Homo sapiens: one gene and its partners. The protein of the gene in region 3 purifies or fractionates together with the protein of the main gene of each other region. This does not show direct contact. Each region holds a gene or a part of one and is shown on either strand. Other genes may lie near its edges.

Region 1 (2,881 bases), on a different chromosome or scaffold from region 3:
ATTGCTTCTTTGATTTGGACATCAGCAAACTATAGCTTATGGGGCAATGCAGTCCACTGCCTGTTTTTGTATGGTGGAAATTTTGTTTTTTCTCATTATATAATATCTTTGATTTGCCGTGGGCCCACAAGGCCTGCAATTTTTCTTACAGAAAAAGTTTGCTAACCCCTGATTTGGGAGATTGCAAAATAACCACTTTAATAAGCATTTTATAATACAAAGGTAACCCATCTTTCCTCAAACGTGAATCCCATGTTCTACCTCTAGAGACACAAACTGCTGTATCTTCATTTTATTTTATTTTTGAGACAGAGTCTCATTCCGTCATGCAGGCTGGAGGGCAGTGGTGCAATCTCAGCTCATTGCAACCTCTGCCTCCGGATTCAATCTATTCTTGTGCCTCAGCCTCCTGAGTAGCTGGAATTACAGGAGCGACACCACGCCTGGCTAATTTTTTGTATTTTTAGTAGAGACAGGTTTCACCATGTTGGCCAGGCTGGTCTCAAACTCCTGTGATCTGCTCACCTTGGTCCCCCAAAGTGCTGAGATTACAGGCGTAAGCCACCATGCTCGGCCACAAACTGCTGTCTCCTTAAAAGGGTAGTCTTTTTTTGTTTTTCTGAGGTGGCGTCTCACTTTATCCCCAAGGGTGGAGTGCAGTGGTGCCATCTCGGCTTGCTGCAACCTCCGCGATTCTCCTGCCTCAGCCTCCTGAGTAGCTGGGATTACAGGCGTGTACCATCATGCCTGACTAATTTTTGTATTTTTAGTAGAGATGGGGTTTCATCATATTGGCCAGGCTGGTCTTGAACTCCTGACCTCAAATGATCCACTTTCCTCGGCCTCCCAAAGTGTTGGGATTACAGGCATGAGCCACCATGCCCATCTGGGCAGTCTTAATTATTCAACATTGAACACAAACTGGGTTTAGATTATATGAAGAAACTATTACTAATATTTTGGGGGTGCGAAAATACTGCGGGTTTGTGTTAAGAAAATTCCCCATCAGAGATACAGACAGGAGATTTATGAGTGAACTGATGTGATATCTGCTCTAAAAATACAGCGGGAAAAAAATAGCATGTGTGATGAGATGCATGAAACAAAACGATGGAATTTGAACATTTTCCTAATAAAAAAGGCAGTCTCCCCATTCTTGCCAAAGAAAAACAGAAACAAATCCCGATGTATGTATGTATCTATCTGTATCTGTCTGTCGTTCTGTCTGTCTGTCTGTCTATCTAGGAAAGAGACAGAGAGATGGAAATACAGGTAGATCTATATATCTGTATCTCTATATCTATAGATCTATATCTATATCCACAGATCTATATCTATATCTGTATCTATATCCACCTGGTCCTGCCTCAGCCAGGACAGTCCGGTAGAGAGGAAGGCCTGCTTTGTCTTATTGGAAATGCCTGGGGCTACCAATCCAGACTGCCTGTGAACAGGGACACAGGGATAACCCACATGGTCAAGAACACTGACTAAGTGGACACACAGACTAAGTTGACAGCCTCAACCCCAAGAGGAGAGGCAGTGGATTTGGGGTAGGTCCCTCCTTACAGCCACACTGGAGGGAGTCGGCTCTTTAGTATCAAACCCATGGAAACACATGCGCAGGCCTTCCATGAATTAAAGAACCCCCTCCGGTAGTCAGAATTTCAATTAGTAAGAAGGTCATGTTCTAGTCACAGTCTTGAGGGATGGGAAATGGAATCTTCTTGTTTACATTAAAGTTATTTGCAAATTAGTTTTCATGGAAAACCTTGATGCTTACATTTTTCTGACTTTCCCATTTCTCTTATAGCTGCCCAGTCAGGAATACTTGATAGGACAATTTCTGTAATTATGAAGAATCAAACACCAACAAAGAAGGTTTGTATGCCTTGTAAGAATCACTGTCTCAATGATCATCTTCCATTCTGTGTAAAAGTAGTGTTTTCCCACAATTTTGCACTTTCTGTCTTTTCTTTTTTTCTGTTTTTCTTTTTTTTTTTTTTGAGATGCAGTTTGCTCTTGTTGCCCAGGCTGGAGTGCAATGGCACGATCTCAGCTCACCGCAACCTCCACCTCCTGGGTTCAAGCGATTCTCCTGCCTCAGCCTCCCGAATAGATGGAATTACAGGCATGTGCCACCACACCTGGCTAATTTTTTGTATTTTTAGTAGAGACAGGGTTTCTCCATGTTGGTCAGGCTGATCTCAAACTCCTGACCTCAGATGATCCACCCGCCTTGGCCTCCCAAACTGCTGGGATTACAGGTGTGAGCCACCGCGCCTGGCCCAGTTTTGCACTTTTTTAATTAGTGTCTCCAATATGGGCATTTCTGTTTTTGCCATTAGTACTATTTTTTTTGTAATATAATTTACATTTTTCACAGTACAAAAAGCTAGAATATACAGAAAAGAAAAAATATATAAGCACTCACAGCAAATAATAAATTCTATAGTGTTAATATAGTACCATGAAAAAAATCTACTTTCCAACTCAGTCTGATTTACAATTTTAGTATGATGGCTACACATCATGTCCACTGGTGACCGGCTACAACCGTGTGATTCTTGCTGAGTTTGACTACAAAGCAGAGCCGCTAGAAACCTTCCCCTTTGATCAAAGCAAAGAGCGCCTTTCCATGTATCTCATGAAAGCTGACCTGATGCCTTTCCTGTATTGGAATATGATGCTAAGGTAAGTGCACTGCCTGGTTCCTGGATGAGGAAAGGGATTTGTAGCACATCTCCACCCAAAGGGGATGCAGCCTCTTTTCTTCATTATTAGCAGTGACCAAGTGTTCTGTCTTCCATGCTCTAGGCCCTCTTTTGCTGCTGGATAAATAATAATAGTAAATCACTTTCACATACCAAGTACTCTATCA
Region 2 (4,005 bases), on a different chromosome or scaffold from region 3:
TTTTTTTTTTTTCTGAGACGGAGTCTTGCTCTGTTGCCCAGGCTGGAATGCAGTGGCACAATCTAGGCTTATTGCAACCTCCGCCTCCCGGGTTCAAGTGATTCTCCTGCCTCAGCCTCCTGAGTAGCTGGGATTACAGGCGTGCACCTCCATGCCCAGCTAATTTTTGTGTTTTTAGGAGAGACAGGTTTCAGCATGTTGGTCAGGCTGGTCTCACTCCTGACCTCATGATCCACCCACCTTGGCCTCCCAAAGTGCTGGGATTACAGGCGTAAGCCACCGCACCTGGCCATGATGAGTGTTCTTTCTAAAGCCACCTGGCAGCCATGTCTCCCTCTAACTCCAGGTCACCCGTGAGCCCTTGGACCACAAGTCATGGTAGGCTTGCCTAGCTTGAGGCTTCAGATGTGTGTGCTCACTCACACAGTGCCTGCTCATGGGATGCATTTGAGGAAATATTAGATAGTTTCTGGGCCTGAAGTCTCAGGCCCAGTGGTCAGGAACCACTTGACCCAATCATTGCCTACCCCCTGGTAAGGACTGGCCTGGATGGCCAGCAGGGAGCCCAGCTTTCCTTCCCAGGTGTCCCCTTGTCACCCCCGGCCCTGTCAAACCACAGCACTTGAAGAGTGAATCAGGACCCATACCTCGCAGGGGAGGATGAACTGGCACCACCACTTTTGGCATCAAATGAGTTGATTATTGGCTGCCCCTTTGCCCAGCAATTCCATTCTGAGAAATTCACCTGAAAGGAACTTCTGTCCATGCACAAGAACAGTCACAGCAGCACCATCGTAACAACAGAACACTGCAATCAACCAAATGTCACCTAAAGGAACCTGGATAGTGTGATTTACAGTGTGATATATTTACCCAACCAGATACTATCCAGCAGTGAGAACAAATAAAGGACAACTGCATGCATCAATGCAGATGACGCACAAAAACAGTGTTGAACAAAAGGGGCAAGCCATAGCAGAACAGATACAGCAGAATACCTTGTATATAAGCAATACATGGATTGGGGGAGATACAGAGGAGGTCAAACTCTAAGAAAAGGAGGGTACGATGAACAGAATTCGGGCTGGCAGATTCCTCCAGGGAGGACAGGGCAGTGATGGGGTGAAGACAAGGGCCTCCAGAGGAACAAACAAATTCTATCTCTTAACCTGGTGTCAGGGATACAAGTATTTGTTATTTGTCTTAGTCTGGGATGTTATAACAAAATACCAGCCACTGGGTGGCTTATAAACAATAGAAATGTGTTTCTTAGAGTCCTGGAGGGTGGGAAATCCAAGATCAATGCACCAACAGCTTTGGTGTCTGGTGAGGGCCAGTTTCCTGGTTCATAGATGATGCCTTGTCACTGGGCTCCGTTGGGCTATTTTAGAAGGGCACTAATCCCAATCATATGGGCTCCACCCTCATACCTCATCACCTCCCAAGGGCCCCACCTCCTAATATCACTTTGGTGATTAGGTTTTAACATATGAATGGTGGGGTGACACAAACATGCAGACCATAGCATTTATTATTAGTTTATAAGCAGTATAAATATTTATTTATTTATTTATTTTTTTCTTTGAGATGCAGTCTCGCTCTGTCACCCAGGCTGGAGTGCAGTGGCACGATCTCGGATCACTGCAAGCTCTGCCTCCCGGGTTCACGCCATTCTCCTGCCTCAGCGTCCCGAGTAGTGGGGACTACAGGCACCCGTCACCACGCCCGGCTAATTTTTTGTATTTTTAGTAGAGATGGGGTTTCATCGTATTAGCCAGGATGGTCTCCATCTCCTGAACTCGTGATCCACCTGCCTCGGCCTCCCAAAGTGCTGGGATTACAGGCGTGAGCCACCGCGCCCGGCAGCGTATAAATATTTACATATCCTTTTCTATGTGTAAACTTGTGTAAATTGTCTGCAAGACAATAAAAATGATTTGAAAGTGAGTGAGGGTATAACCTGCTTGTTAGGCCTAAAGCCAAAAGGTCATAGGATCACAGGTGGTGGTCTTGTCCCTCTAGGAAAATGGACAGATGTCTAAAAGCTGCCCAAGGCATGCAGAAGTGGATGCCACAGGAGCTTATTGAGTCATTTAAGAGACAGCATGCTATGGTTTGAATGTTTGTCACCTCCGAAACTCATGTTGAAACTTAATTCCCGATGTGGCAGTATTGAGAGGTGGGGCCTTTAAGCGGTGACTGGGTCATGAAGGTTCTTCCCTCAATAATGGATTAATCCATTCATAGATTAATGGGTTATCATGGGAGTGAAACTAGTTAGGCTTTATAAGAAAAGAAAAAGACACCTGAGGTAGCACACTCAGCCCCTTACCATATGACGCCCGGTGCCGCCTCAATACTCTGCAAAGTCCCCACCAGCAAGAAGGGACTTGACTTTGGACTTCTCAGCCTCCAGAGCAGTAAGAAGAAAATTTTTTACCATATAAATTGCCCAGTTTCAGGTATTCTGTCACAAGCAACAGAAAATGGACTAAGAAACATCCAGTTATCTCCTTCTCGAAGCTGTCTCCGGTATTTAAGAGGAAACGTTAAAGACGCAGCCCCGTCACATCCCTCCATCAAATGGACTAAGACACATCCAGTTATCTCCTCCTCGAAGCTGTCTCCAGTATTTAAGAGGAAACGTTAAAGATGCAGCCCCTGTCACATCCCTCCATCAAAAAACATAGGCTGCCTCGTGGAATCAGAGTCCTTCCCAGCCTCCAGGTAGGTAAGGCTGGGGCTGGGGGCTGTGGGGCTGTGCTTTTAAAAGCCGTTTCTGTGGATTCTTGGTTCTGCTGAGTAGCCAGATCTGAGAACCAATGATCAGGTACTAAATATGCTGTCCCATGTGGTGGTCACCAGCCCCCGTGGCTACTGAGCACTAGAAATGTGGCTAATGGGACTGAGGACCTGGATTTTCAACTTCATTTAATTTTAATTATTTGAGGTGATAATAAAGTAATAAAGTTATTAGGAGCCTTTTTTTTTTTTTTGAGACGGAGTCTCGCTCTGTCGCCCAGGTTGGAAGGCAGTGGTGCGATCTCGGCTCACTGCAACCTCCACCACCTCCCGGGTTCAAGCAATTATCCTGCCTCAGCCTCCTGAGTAGCTGGGATTACAGGTGAGTGCCACCACATCCAGCTAATTTTTGTATTTTTAGTAGAGACGGGGTTTCACCATGTTGGCCAGGCTGGTCTCAAACTCCTGACCTCAGGTGATCCGCCCATCTCAGCCTCCCAAAGTGCTGGGATTACAGGTGTGAGCAACCACACCCAGCCTAGGAGACATTTAAGTGTGTTTGGAACAACTTGACTATGTGAACCTTCATTTTTAATTGTGAATTTTATAAAAGTAAATACAGATAGAGCATTTACTTAGAAATTGTGAATTGAGATATGCTGGAAGTATATGAGTACGAAAAGAGTATGCAAGATATCTTATTACTGATTTTTTTTGTATGTCACAGAATCCCCCAAAATCTTGGCTCACTGCAACCTCTGCCTCCTGGGCTCAAGTGATTCTCATGCCTCAGCCTCCCGAGTAGCTGGGACTACAGGCACCCACCACCATGCTGAGCTAGTTTTTAGTAGAGATGGGGTTTCACCATGTTGGCCAGGCTGGTCTTGAACTCCTGATCTCAGATGATCCACTCGCCTCGGCCTCCCAAAGTCCTGGGATTACAGTCGTGAGCCACCGTGCCTGGTCTCATTACTGATTTTTAAAATACTGATTACATGTTGGAATGATAATATTTTGTATGTACTAGGTTGAATAAATATATTGTTGAAAATGATTTTTTTTTCTTTTTAACTAGAAAATGTAGAATTATGTGTGTGGCTCCCATTCTGTTTCTGTTGAACAGCTGCTTTAGAAGTAGATGCAAGGGGTGGAGAAAAGGGTGGGGAAGAGGCCTTCAAGTGAACTCAGTTTCTGATGAATTTTGGAGACCAGGGGGAGCTTAGGGTCAATCCAGGACAGTCAGGGCTTTAAAATAATTAAACA
Region 3 (5,558 bases):
GGAACTCTGAAAGTCACGTCGCACAGGCGAGACTCACCCATCTATCCTATCTATCCTGACCCTTGCCTCCTGGGTCCTAATGCCTGTCAGACAAACTTCCTCTCGCCTTTCTTTGAGGCTAGTCCCACTTCTAAAAACCACTCCATCTCTGGTGCTTTTCTAGTTTCTCCTGTAAGAATGATTTCTAGGATAAACTTCAGGACTCTGTTACCTTCTTTAGACACCCGGGCTCACCAATCAGAAAGACACAGTTTTTGCTCAAAGCCCCATCGTAGGGGGGATTATCTGGAATTTTAGAATCCCTCCTCAGAAAAGCAGGCCTAACAAAAGCTATTCCTGAAACTAGGATATCGGGAGCCTCAGAAATTGTATCCTTCCTATTCATATAACTGGGGATAAAAGGCTTCACTCTTCCAACTCTGGAGATCCCTTCCCTCCCTCAGGGTATGGCCCTCCACTTCATTTTGGGGGCATAACATCTTTATAGGACATGGGTAAGGTCCCAATACTAACAGGAGAATGCTTAGGACTCCAACAGTTTTCCAAGAATGCATCAGTAAGGGCCACTAAATCTGATTTTTCTCAGTCCTCTTTGAGGTCTAGGAGGACAGGAAAGGGCGCAGGTTTTCGAGAATGTGTTGGTAAGGGCCACGAAATCTGACCTTCCTCATTCCTCCTTGTGGTCTAGGAGAACTAGTGTTTCTGCTGCTGTGTCAGTGAGCACAACCATTCTGATCAGCAGGGTCCAGGGACTGTTGCGGGTTCTTGGGCAGGGGTTGTTTCTGCTGCTGCGTTGGTGAGCACAACTACTCCAATCAGCAGGGTCCGGGGACTGTTGCAGGTTCTTGGGCAAGAGGTGTTTCTGCTGCTGCATTGGTGAGCACAACTATTCCGATCAGCAGGGTCCAGGGACCGTTGCAGGTTCTTGGGCAGGGGGAGAAACAAACAAACCAAAACCACAGGCGGTTTTGTCTTTCAGATGGGAAACACTCAGGCATCAACAGGCTCACCCTTGAAATGCATCCTAAGCCACTGGGACCAATTTGACCCACAAACCCTGAAAAAGAGGTGGCTCATTTTTTTCTATACTACAGCCTGGCCCCAATTTCTCTCTCTGATGGGGAAAAATGGCCACCTGAGGGAAGTATAAACTACAGTACTATCCTGCAGCCTGACCTTTTCTGTAAGAGGGAAGGCAAATGGAGTGAAATACCTTATGTCTAAGTTTTCTTTTCATTGAAGGAGAATACCCAAGTATGCAAAGCTTGCAATTTACATCCCACAGGAGGACCTCTCAGCTTACCTCCATATCCTAGCCTCCCTATAGCTCCCCTTCCTATTAATGATAATCCTCCTCTAATGTCCGCTGCCCAGAAGGAAATAAGCAAAGAAATCTCCAAAGGATCACAAACGCCCCCTTCCCGGGCTATCGGTTATGTCCCCTTCAAGCTGTAGGGGGAGCGGAATTTGGCCCAACCTAGGTACATGTTCCCTTCTCCCTCTCTGATTTTAAGCAGATCAAGGCAGACCTTGGGAAGCTTTCAGATGATCTTGATAGGTATACAGATGTCCTACAGGGTCGAGGGCAAACCTTCTATCTCACTTGGAGAGATGTCATGCTAGTGTTAGATCAAACCCTGGCCTTTAATGAAAAGAATGTGGCTTTAGCTGCAGCCCAAGAGTTTGGAGATACCTGGTATCTTAGTCCAGTAAATGATAGAATGACAGTTGAAGAAAGGGACAAATTCCTTACTAGTCAGCAAGCCGTATGTCAGTAAGTCAGTATGGATCCCCACTGGGACCTCGACTCAGATCATGGGGACTGGAGTCGTAAACATCTGCTGACTTGTGTTCTAGAAGGACTAAGGAGTATTAGGAAAAAGCCCATGAATTATTCAATGATGTCCACCATAACTCAGGGAAAGGAAGAAAATGCTTCTGCCTTCCACGAGCAGCTACGGGAGGCCTTAAGAAAATACACTCCCCTGTCACCCGACTCACTTGAGGGTCAATTGATCCTAAAAGACAAGTTTATTACCCAATCATCTGTGGATATCAGGAGAAAGCTCCAAAAGCGAGCCCTGGGCCCTGAACAAACTCTGGAAGCATTATTAAACCTGGCAACCTCAGTGTTCTATAATAGGGACCAAGATGGACAGGCCCAAAAGTAAAAGTGAGATAATAGAAAGGCCGCAGACTTAGTCATGGCCCTCAGACAAACAAACCTTGGTGGTTCAGAGGGGACAGAGAATGGAGCAGGCCAATCACCTGGTAGGGCTTGTTATCAGTGTGGTTTACAAGGACACTTTTTAAAAAAAAGATTGTCCTATGAGAAACAAGCTGCCCCCTCGCCCATGTCCACTATGCCGAGGCAATCACTGGAAGACACACTGCCCCAGAGGACAAAGGTTCTCTGGGACAGAAGCCACCAACCAGATGATGCAACAAGACTGAGGGTGCCCAGGGAAAGCACCAGCTCATGTCATCACTCTCACTGAGTCCTGGGTATGTATAACCATTGAGGGCCAGGAAATTGACTTCCTCCTGGACACTGGCGTGGCTTTCTCAGTGTTAATTTCCTGTCTTGGAGCTGTCCTCAAGGTCTGTTACCATCCGAGGAATCCTGGGACAGGCTGTAACCAGGTATTTCTCCCACCTCCTCAGTTGTAATTGGGAGACTTTGCTCCTTTCACATGCCTTTCTTGTTATGCCTGAAAGTCCCACACCCTTATTAGGGAGGGATATATTAGCCAAAGCTGGAGCTATTATCTACATGAATATGGGGAACAAGTTACCCATTTGTTGTCCCCTGCTTGGGGAGGGAATCAACCCTGAAGTCTGGGCATTGGAAGGAACAAACTCAAGCTCTAGCCTTAAGCCTTCCCACAGGACGAAACTTTTCTTTAAACGTCACAGAGAGAGCAGGAATAGCTCTTGGGGTCCTTACTCAGACTCATGGGACAACTCCACAACCAGTGGCATACCTAAGGAAACTGATACAGTAGCAAAAGGCTAGACTAACTGTTTAGGGGTAGTTGTGGCAGTGGCTGTCTTAGTGTCAGAGGCTATCAAAATAATACAAGGAAAGGATCTCACTGTCTGGACTACTCATGATGTAAATGGCAAACTAGGTGCCAAAGGAAGTTTATGGCTATCAGAAAACCACCTGCTTAGATACCAGGCACTACTCCTTGAGTGACCAGTGCTTCAAGTGCATACATGTGTGGCCCTCAGCCCTGCCACTTTTCTCCCAGAGGATAGGGAGCGGGTCAAGCATGGCTGCCAACAGGTAGTAGTCCAGACTTATGCCGCCTGAAAGGATCTCTTAGAAGTCCCGTTAGCTAATCCTGACCTTAACCTATATACCGATGGAAGTTCATTTGTGGAAAATGGGATACGAAGGGCAGGTTATGCCACAGTTAGTGATGTAACCGTACTTGAAAGTAAACCTCTTCCCCCAGGGACCAGCACCCAGTTAGCAGAACTAGTGGCACTTACCCGAGCCTTAGAACTGGGAAAGGAAAAAAGAAAAAACGTGTATACAGATAGCAAGTATGCTTATCTAATCCTACATGCCCATGCTGCAATATGTAAAGAAAGAGCGTTCCTAACCTCTGGGGGAACCCCCATTAAATACCACAAGGAAATCATGGAGTTATTGCACTCAATGCAAAAACCCAAGGAGGTGGCAGTCTTACACTGCCGAAGCCATCAAAAAGGGGAAGGAGAAGGGAGAACGGCAGCATAAGCGGCTGGCAGAGGCAGGGAAAGACCAGCAGAGAGAAAGAGGCAAAGTCAAAGACAGAAGGAAAGAGAGGAAGAGACAAAGGAGTCAGAGAGAAAGAGATAGAAGTAGTAAAGAAAAAACAGTGCACCCTATTCCTTTAAAAGCCAGGGTAAATTTAAAATATATAATTCATGCCTGTAATCCCAGCACTTTGGGAGGCCAAGGCGGGCAGATCATGAGGTCAGGAGTTTGAGACCAACTTGGCCAACATGGTGAAACCCCGTCTCTACTAAAAATACAAAAATTAGCCAGGTGTGGTGGCGGGCGCCTGTAATTCCAGCTACTCCAGAGGCTGAGGCAGGAGAATTGCTTGAACCCGGGAAGCAGAGGTTGCGGTGAGCCTAGATCATGCCACTGCACTCCAGCCTGGGTGACAGGGCAAGACTCCATCTCCAAAAAAATAAAAATGAAAAATAAAACCTACAATTGATAATTGAAGGTCTTCTCTGTAACCCTGTAACACTCCAATACCACCTTGTTGTCAGTGTAAACAAGGGCATAGCCCAAAAGCACTGAGGCCACTGACAACCTGTAGCCTTCCTATCAAAAATCCTTAACCCAGCAGGTTCCTAACAGGGGATCTAAATCTGAAGGTCTGACCAGACATAGGAGGAACCCCCTTCAGGACAGGATGATAGATGTTTCCTCCTGGGCGATTAAGGAAAAAGACACAATGGGTACTCAGTACGTGATAAGGAAACTCTTACAGAAGCAGAGTTAGGAAAATTGCCTAATAATTGGTCTGCTCAAATGTGCAAGCTGTTTGCACTCAGCCAAACCTTAAAGTACTTACAGAATCAGGAAGGAGCCATCTATACCAATTTTAAGTGAATATGGACTGAACGAGGTCTTATTAATAGCAAAGAATAATTGAAATCCCAAACTTAAGGTTTTCAACAAAAGTAAAGTTTGCTAAAAGTTAACAGTGTAACACATATTATCCTAACTTCTAATCTTATGGACATCAGACCCTATCAGTGCCCCTCAAAGCTCAAGTCCATCAGCACAGGGCCATACAACTGATACCCCTACTTATAGGGCTAGAAATGGCCACTGCTACAGGAACCGGAATAGCCAGTTTATCTACTTCATTATCTTACTACCACACACTCTCAAAGTATTTCTCAGACAGTTTGCAAGAAATAACAAAATCTATTCAGTAAGGATAGTAACTACAATCCCAAATAGACTCTGGCAGCAGTGACTCTCCAAAACCCCCGAGGCCTAGACCTCCTCACTGCTGAGAAAGGAGGACTTTGCACCTTAGGGGAAGAGTGTTGTTTTTACACTAACAAGTCAGGGATAGTGCAAGATGCCGCCCGGCATTTACAGGAAAAGGTTTCTGAAATCAGACAACGCCTTTCAAACTCTTATACCAACCTCTGGAGTTGGGCAACATGGCTTCTCCCCTTTCTACATCCTGTGACAGCCGTTTTACTATTACTCGCCTTCGGGCCCTGTATTTTTAACCTCCTTGTCAAATTTGTTTCCTCTAGAATCAAGGCCATCAAACTACAGATGGTCTTACAAACGGAAACCCAAATGAGCTCAACTAACAACTTCTACCGAGGACCCCTGGACCGACCCACTGGCCCTTTCACTGGCCTAGAGAGTTCCCCTCTGGAGGACACTACAACTGCAGGGCCCCTTCTTTGCCCCTGTCCAGCAGGAAGTAGCTAGAGCAGTCATTGCCCAATTCCCAACAGCAGATGGGGTGCCCTGTTTAGAGGCGGGATTGAGAGGTGAAGCCCCTGGACTTCCTGGGTCCAGT
Region 4 (4,659 bases), on a different chromosome or scaffold from region 3:
TAAATTCTTAAAATGTAAAGATTAGTATTAAGTAATAACTATGATGTTACCTGAATTATCTTCAGTAGAGTTTACAACTCATTTTAACAGTCTAATTCTTCTATCCATTCAACCCAATGCTTAAGAATAGCTATTTATGTTGCTTAGAAACTAAAGCAACATAAAAGGGGGGTAAAACAAGTTTTGAACATGCTCACTATGCTGGACACAATTTAGGACAATTTAAGTGTCTATTATTTAATACTCCCAGAGCTTTCTTATATTGCTTTCTATCTCACTGATAAAGATAGCAATTGAGAGAATAATAAGAAATCTTAGAAAATCACCCAGGCGATAAGAAAAACCATAACATGATTATTGTTCTCTGTGATTCTATAGCACATGTCAAATCACACTGATCTCAGCTGAAGCTCAAAAAAGTAAAGGGACTTTCAGGTCATAAATTGGAACACAGCCAAAATGAAAAGTGATCATCATTCCTTGATTTTGATTTCAGTTTTAGTATGTGAGTATGTGTGAATAAATTTGAACCCAGAAGCAAAATTCACCCACAACTACTCATCCAGTCATAGAATTGTCATCTCCACACAATCACAATAAATACATGTGCACACAAGCTCATCATAGACACAGTACCTTTGAAGTGTAGAATATGTCTTCTCTCTTCACACTGCCATCTGCAATCTTGCTTCGGATGGCCAGTCCAACCTGCTCCTCATTATTGTATAAATGAGCAGAATCTATATGGCGGAACCCAGCTTCTATTGCTAATTTTGTGACCTCCAAAGCTTTACTTCTCGGAACCTGGAGGAGCAACCAAAGGTAGTATCTGGTGATCACTGTGGCTGAGAGGTAGTTCAGGCACAAGCATTGACTTTTATACAAGAATCAGCTTTTCCTCCTGTCTGTATGTGGGGTGAAAAGTCCATCTCAGTTTGCCTGAGTCTTTCCTGGTTAGTAATAAAGGTTGAGCATCCCAGAAACACCTTCAGTCTCAGGCAATCTCTGGTTGATCACTGTTATGGAGGTACCAAATAACACCCTCAGATTCAGTGATTTGTTGGAAAAGTTAACATGACTGAAATAGTCCTAATTATTTTTAATATAGTGATATTATACATGGTAAAAATCACATGGAGTATAGAAGGGAAACGGTGCAAGCTCATATGAGTTCTCTCCCAGTGATATTACACAGAATGCTCACTCAGACTTCCTCCAACATCGTATTTGGGAAATGCTGTCTACAAGAGATGTTCTTTGGTGTCTCAGTTCTTGAGATTTTGACTGGATGCTAGTTACATCGACCCAACTAGGGTTCACTTGGGAAATAAAGCATCTGTGAATAGTAGTCTATTAAGTCTTTTCTGCATAGTCATTCTGGCTACACAACAGAACTGAACACTAGGGGTAAAGATGTATACTCTGAGGATATCGATTTGTACATTAAAAATTCACTGAAATCTGTTAAGAATTTACTAAGGTACAGTTCTGCCATAAAAAATAAGGCTATCTCTTTCAGGAAAGACAGAATTCCAGTGAAATTTAAAATTACTGACTTATTGACCAAATTTGGATAAAGATTTGAAAGGTATTTTTTAATGACAAAAATATAAATAAACTGTTTTCATTTTTACATGTATTTAAAGAAGCTTTCTTGTTTCGTTGAAATTACAAGGAACTAGATAACGGTCTCCCCGCCATCTCCTGAGAACAGTCTTTTTTTTTTTTTTTAAATCTTTTTTGAGAGCAGTCTTTAAGTGTGCCAACACTCAAAGGTTTACCAAGGCTGGAGCTTCAGTTGTGTCGTTATTTTCATTTCCTGCCCATGCCAATTTATATTAAAAATTAAACCACTTTTGTCACTGGTCTAGAAAATGTATCCTTGTAGATCATCACAACTTATCGATAAAGTGAGAGACTCAAATTTCAATAATTAGTTCCTATTCACACACTTAGTAGCCTGAGGACAGTCTTGGAATACAAGTTCTATCTAGAAAATGAGGTCTCCATTTTGTTCATTTTTGTGTCAGAAGACCACTCCTACCACTTTGATACAAATATGATGCATACAAAAAAGGACTAAGAATTTAGACTTTCCTTTGTTAGGTTCTAGATTTTACTTAAAATGAGGTGGTATTTTTTTCTTTCAGGAAGTTCTTTTTAAAAGTGAAATAGTACAGTGGAAACTCTAGTCCAGGTCCGGTAATACTGGGTGGCACTCACTGCCGCCCATCAGAACAGTGATACTCTGCCGACAGTTTTGTGCACACCATATCCAGTAATTTTTGCTATAAGTATTTCTCTGGATCGTATGTTCTTGGAAGATGGAAAGATTTCTTCAGTTGTAGAAACAGAGAAATCACTCCTATTGCAATTAATCTCCACCAGAGGGAGATGACCAACAGTGTTCTTCAATACTGAGTTTTACATATTCTGCCAAGCTGGGAACTAGACATGAACAGAAGAAAGAAACAGTGCACAAACGAAAAATAAGCAGTACGTGACCATAGGAATGGACCTCAATGCAGAACAAGGATTGCCTACTTTTTTCTCCTAGCCTAGGAAACCTAGACCAGTGAGTCATCCAGAGTAAGGTAGGAACACGAACCTTACAACCCAATACGGGTTTCACTTCTACTAGGTTTATTCTTTTGAAATCCGAAAACTAAAAGGAATTATTCTTACCTCTGGAGGTGCATAGGTGCCAAATCCCAATACAGGCATGAAGTGGCCATCATTTAGCTTTACACACTGGTGTTTGGAATCCATTCCCTGTCACTTGTCTGACTAGCAAATGTTTGCTGCTGCTTCTCCTCAGAGATTACAAAAACAATGGGCAGGAAACCCCTCCCCCCACCCCTGCAAACTGACTGATGGTTAACCAATGGCATGTAGGAGGAGGTACATAGGCAGTCTTATATGGTCTGTGGAGAAAATTGCATTCAGTTCATTTGTTTCTTATCAAAGAGAATTCCTAAGTAAATTATTATAATATATGGTTATAATAAACTCATTAATTTCTATCTAAAGTATTATTTTCTATTCTAAATCTCTATATTAAATTATTCAAAAGGATTTGTAGAACAAATAGCAACCATATGTTAGACTATAAAAACCTCCAGCTACAAATATCTTTTTTCGTTTCTGCCGTGATAATGCCCCTTCTTTATACTGCATCATTTGAAATAATTAACCATCTTACGTCTTTCTCTCACATACACATAATTTAAAGGAATGACTAATGAGAATTTTTCAAATAGTTGGTCCTCAATAAAAAATTAAAGTTAAAACTGTAAAAATATTTGCCTTTTTACATTTTCAATCAGAAAATTTATTTTGATTTTTCTTTCTTTGCGTTGTAAGAGAAATATTCATTTCTGAAGAAGATGCAGTCCTGATAAAGCTGTAATCCTGATGAGGGTGCAAATAAAAAGAAATTCTGGTGTAGTTTTTATTGGAGTGTTAATTATTAACAGTTTTTGGAGTTTGGACATCATTTAATATATGCAAGCAGTGCCTTAATAGTATTTGTTCTTCAACCAGGTTTATTACAGACTATCAAGAAGTAACTAGCCAAAAAACTGATAACCATTTTATATAATCTGTCATCTTGTTAAACATTATTTGTAAGGAAAAACTGGAAATTAATTACATATAAATGGATGAATAATTCTCATGTGGGATAGTTTTCACTTGTTCCTTCCTTTGGAGGGCAGATTAGAACATGATGAATGTAGTTTGCACAATACATTATCAACATCTTGGAGTTGTCAGAACTTGCAATGCCCTGATTTCGTTCTATTTACTTTTCCTCAAATAATAACCAAAAAGTAAGTTGAGAAATAAGTTAATTATTATACATTGATACAATATAATATAAAATCATTGAAAGCTTTTACAGAGTGATTTCAGCAATATGGTGGATCAAAAGGCCCCTACTTGTCTCATGGACGCGTCAAGAAGTGATCTGAAATTGACTAAAATAAACTTATTTATTTATGGGGGTGCTGAGTAGAAATGTAGTATGATGCCAAGGGCAAGAGATTAGGGGAAGAGACGTGCAATAGTCCGTCTAACCCATTGAGGGGAAGCTGGGGTGTGAATTTTTGAAATAGTAAGCTATTCAAAAGCCAGTAGGTATTTGGGGGAACTACTAATGGGCACACACAGTCCAGGCAGATACAAGTTCAGAAAATTGCTGACAAGGCCTTAGGGTTTTATGTTGGGCTTATGCTAAGACTAAGAACATACCAAGCATATTAGTTGATAATCGTCATGACACAGAACAAATCTATATAGAGTTAGAAAAATGTCTATATTTTGAAATGCTCAAATAAAATAATAAGGTATATAAAGAAACAGGAAAACACAGTCCCTTATAAGAAAGAAAACGAGTTGACAGAAATTATTTTTGAAGAACCATGAGCACTGAAATTAGTAGAGAAAGGTTTTAAAACAATTATCTTAAATATGCTAAAATTTCCAATTAAAAATATGGAAATAGAACTACAGGAAATTGGGAAAAGCATATACGGAAAAATGAGTGTATCAACAATGATGTAGAAATTATACAAAATAAACCAAACAAATTTTGGAGCTGAACGATATAACTGAAGTGAAAATCTCACTAGAGGATTTCAACAGCAATTTGAGCAGAAT

The links. Proteins that work in one complex are often made in the same cells at the same time.
Region 1: the proteins of NUDT19 (region 3) and SQOR fractionate together in Homo sapiens (co-fractionation; one large-scale study listed by BioGRID). This does not show direct contact.
Region 2: the proteins of NUDT19 (region 3) and FXN fractionate together in Homo sapiens (co-fractionation; one large-scale study listed by BioGRID). This does not show direct contact.
Region 4: the proteins of NUDT19 (region 3) and AKR1C3 fractionate together in Homo sapiens (co-fractionation; one large-scale study listed by BioGRID). This does not show direct contact.

The regions. Positions count from the first base shown.
Region 1 is NC_000015.10:45,686,524-45,689,404, forward strand, and holds part of SQOR (sulfide:quinone oxidoreductase, mitochondrial), read left to right. Parts: intron 1-1,813; coding exon 1,814-1,881; intron 1,882-2,515; coding exon 2,516-2,694; intron 2,695-2,881. UniProt on the Homo sapiens protein: Catalyzes the oxidation of hydrogen sulfide with the help of a quinone, such as ubiquinone-10, giving rise to thiosulfate and ultimately to sulfane (molecular sulfur) atoms.
Region 2 is NC_000009.12:69,038,247-69,042,251, reverse strand, and holds part of FXN (frataxin, mitochondrial isoform 1 preproprotein), read right to left. Parts: intron 1-4,005.
Region 3 is NC_000019.10:32,693,820-32,699,377, reverse strand, and holds part of NUDT19 (acyl-coenzyme A diphosphatase NUDT19 precursor), read right to left. Parts: exon of another isoform or gene 5,284-5,558; intron 1-5,283. UniProt on the Homo sapiens protein: Fatty acyl-coenzyme A (CoA) diphosphatase that hydrolyzes fatty acyl-CoA to yield acyl-4'-phosphopantetheine and adenosine 3',5'-bisphosphate.
Region 4 is NC_000010.11:5,092,555-5,097,213, reverse strand, and holds the start of AKR1C3 (aldo-keto reductase family 1 member C3), read right to left. Parts: upstream 2,801-4,659; 5' UTR 2,770-2,800; coding exon 2,686-2,769; intron 805-2,685; coding exon 637-804; intron 1-636. UniProt on the Homo sapiens protein: Cytosolic aldo-keto reductase that catalyzes the NADH and NADPH-dependent reduction of ketosteroids to hydroxysteroids.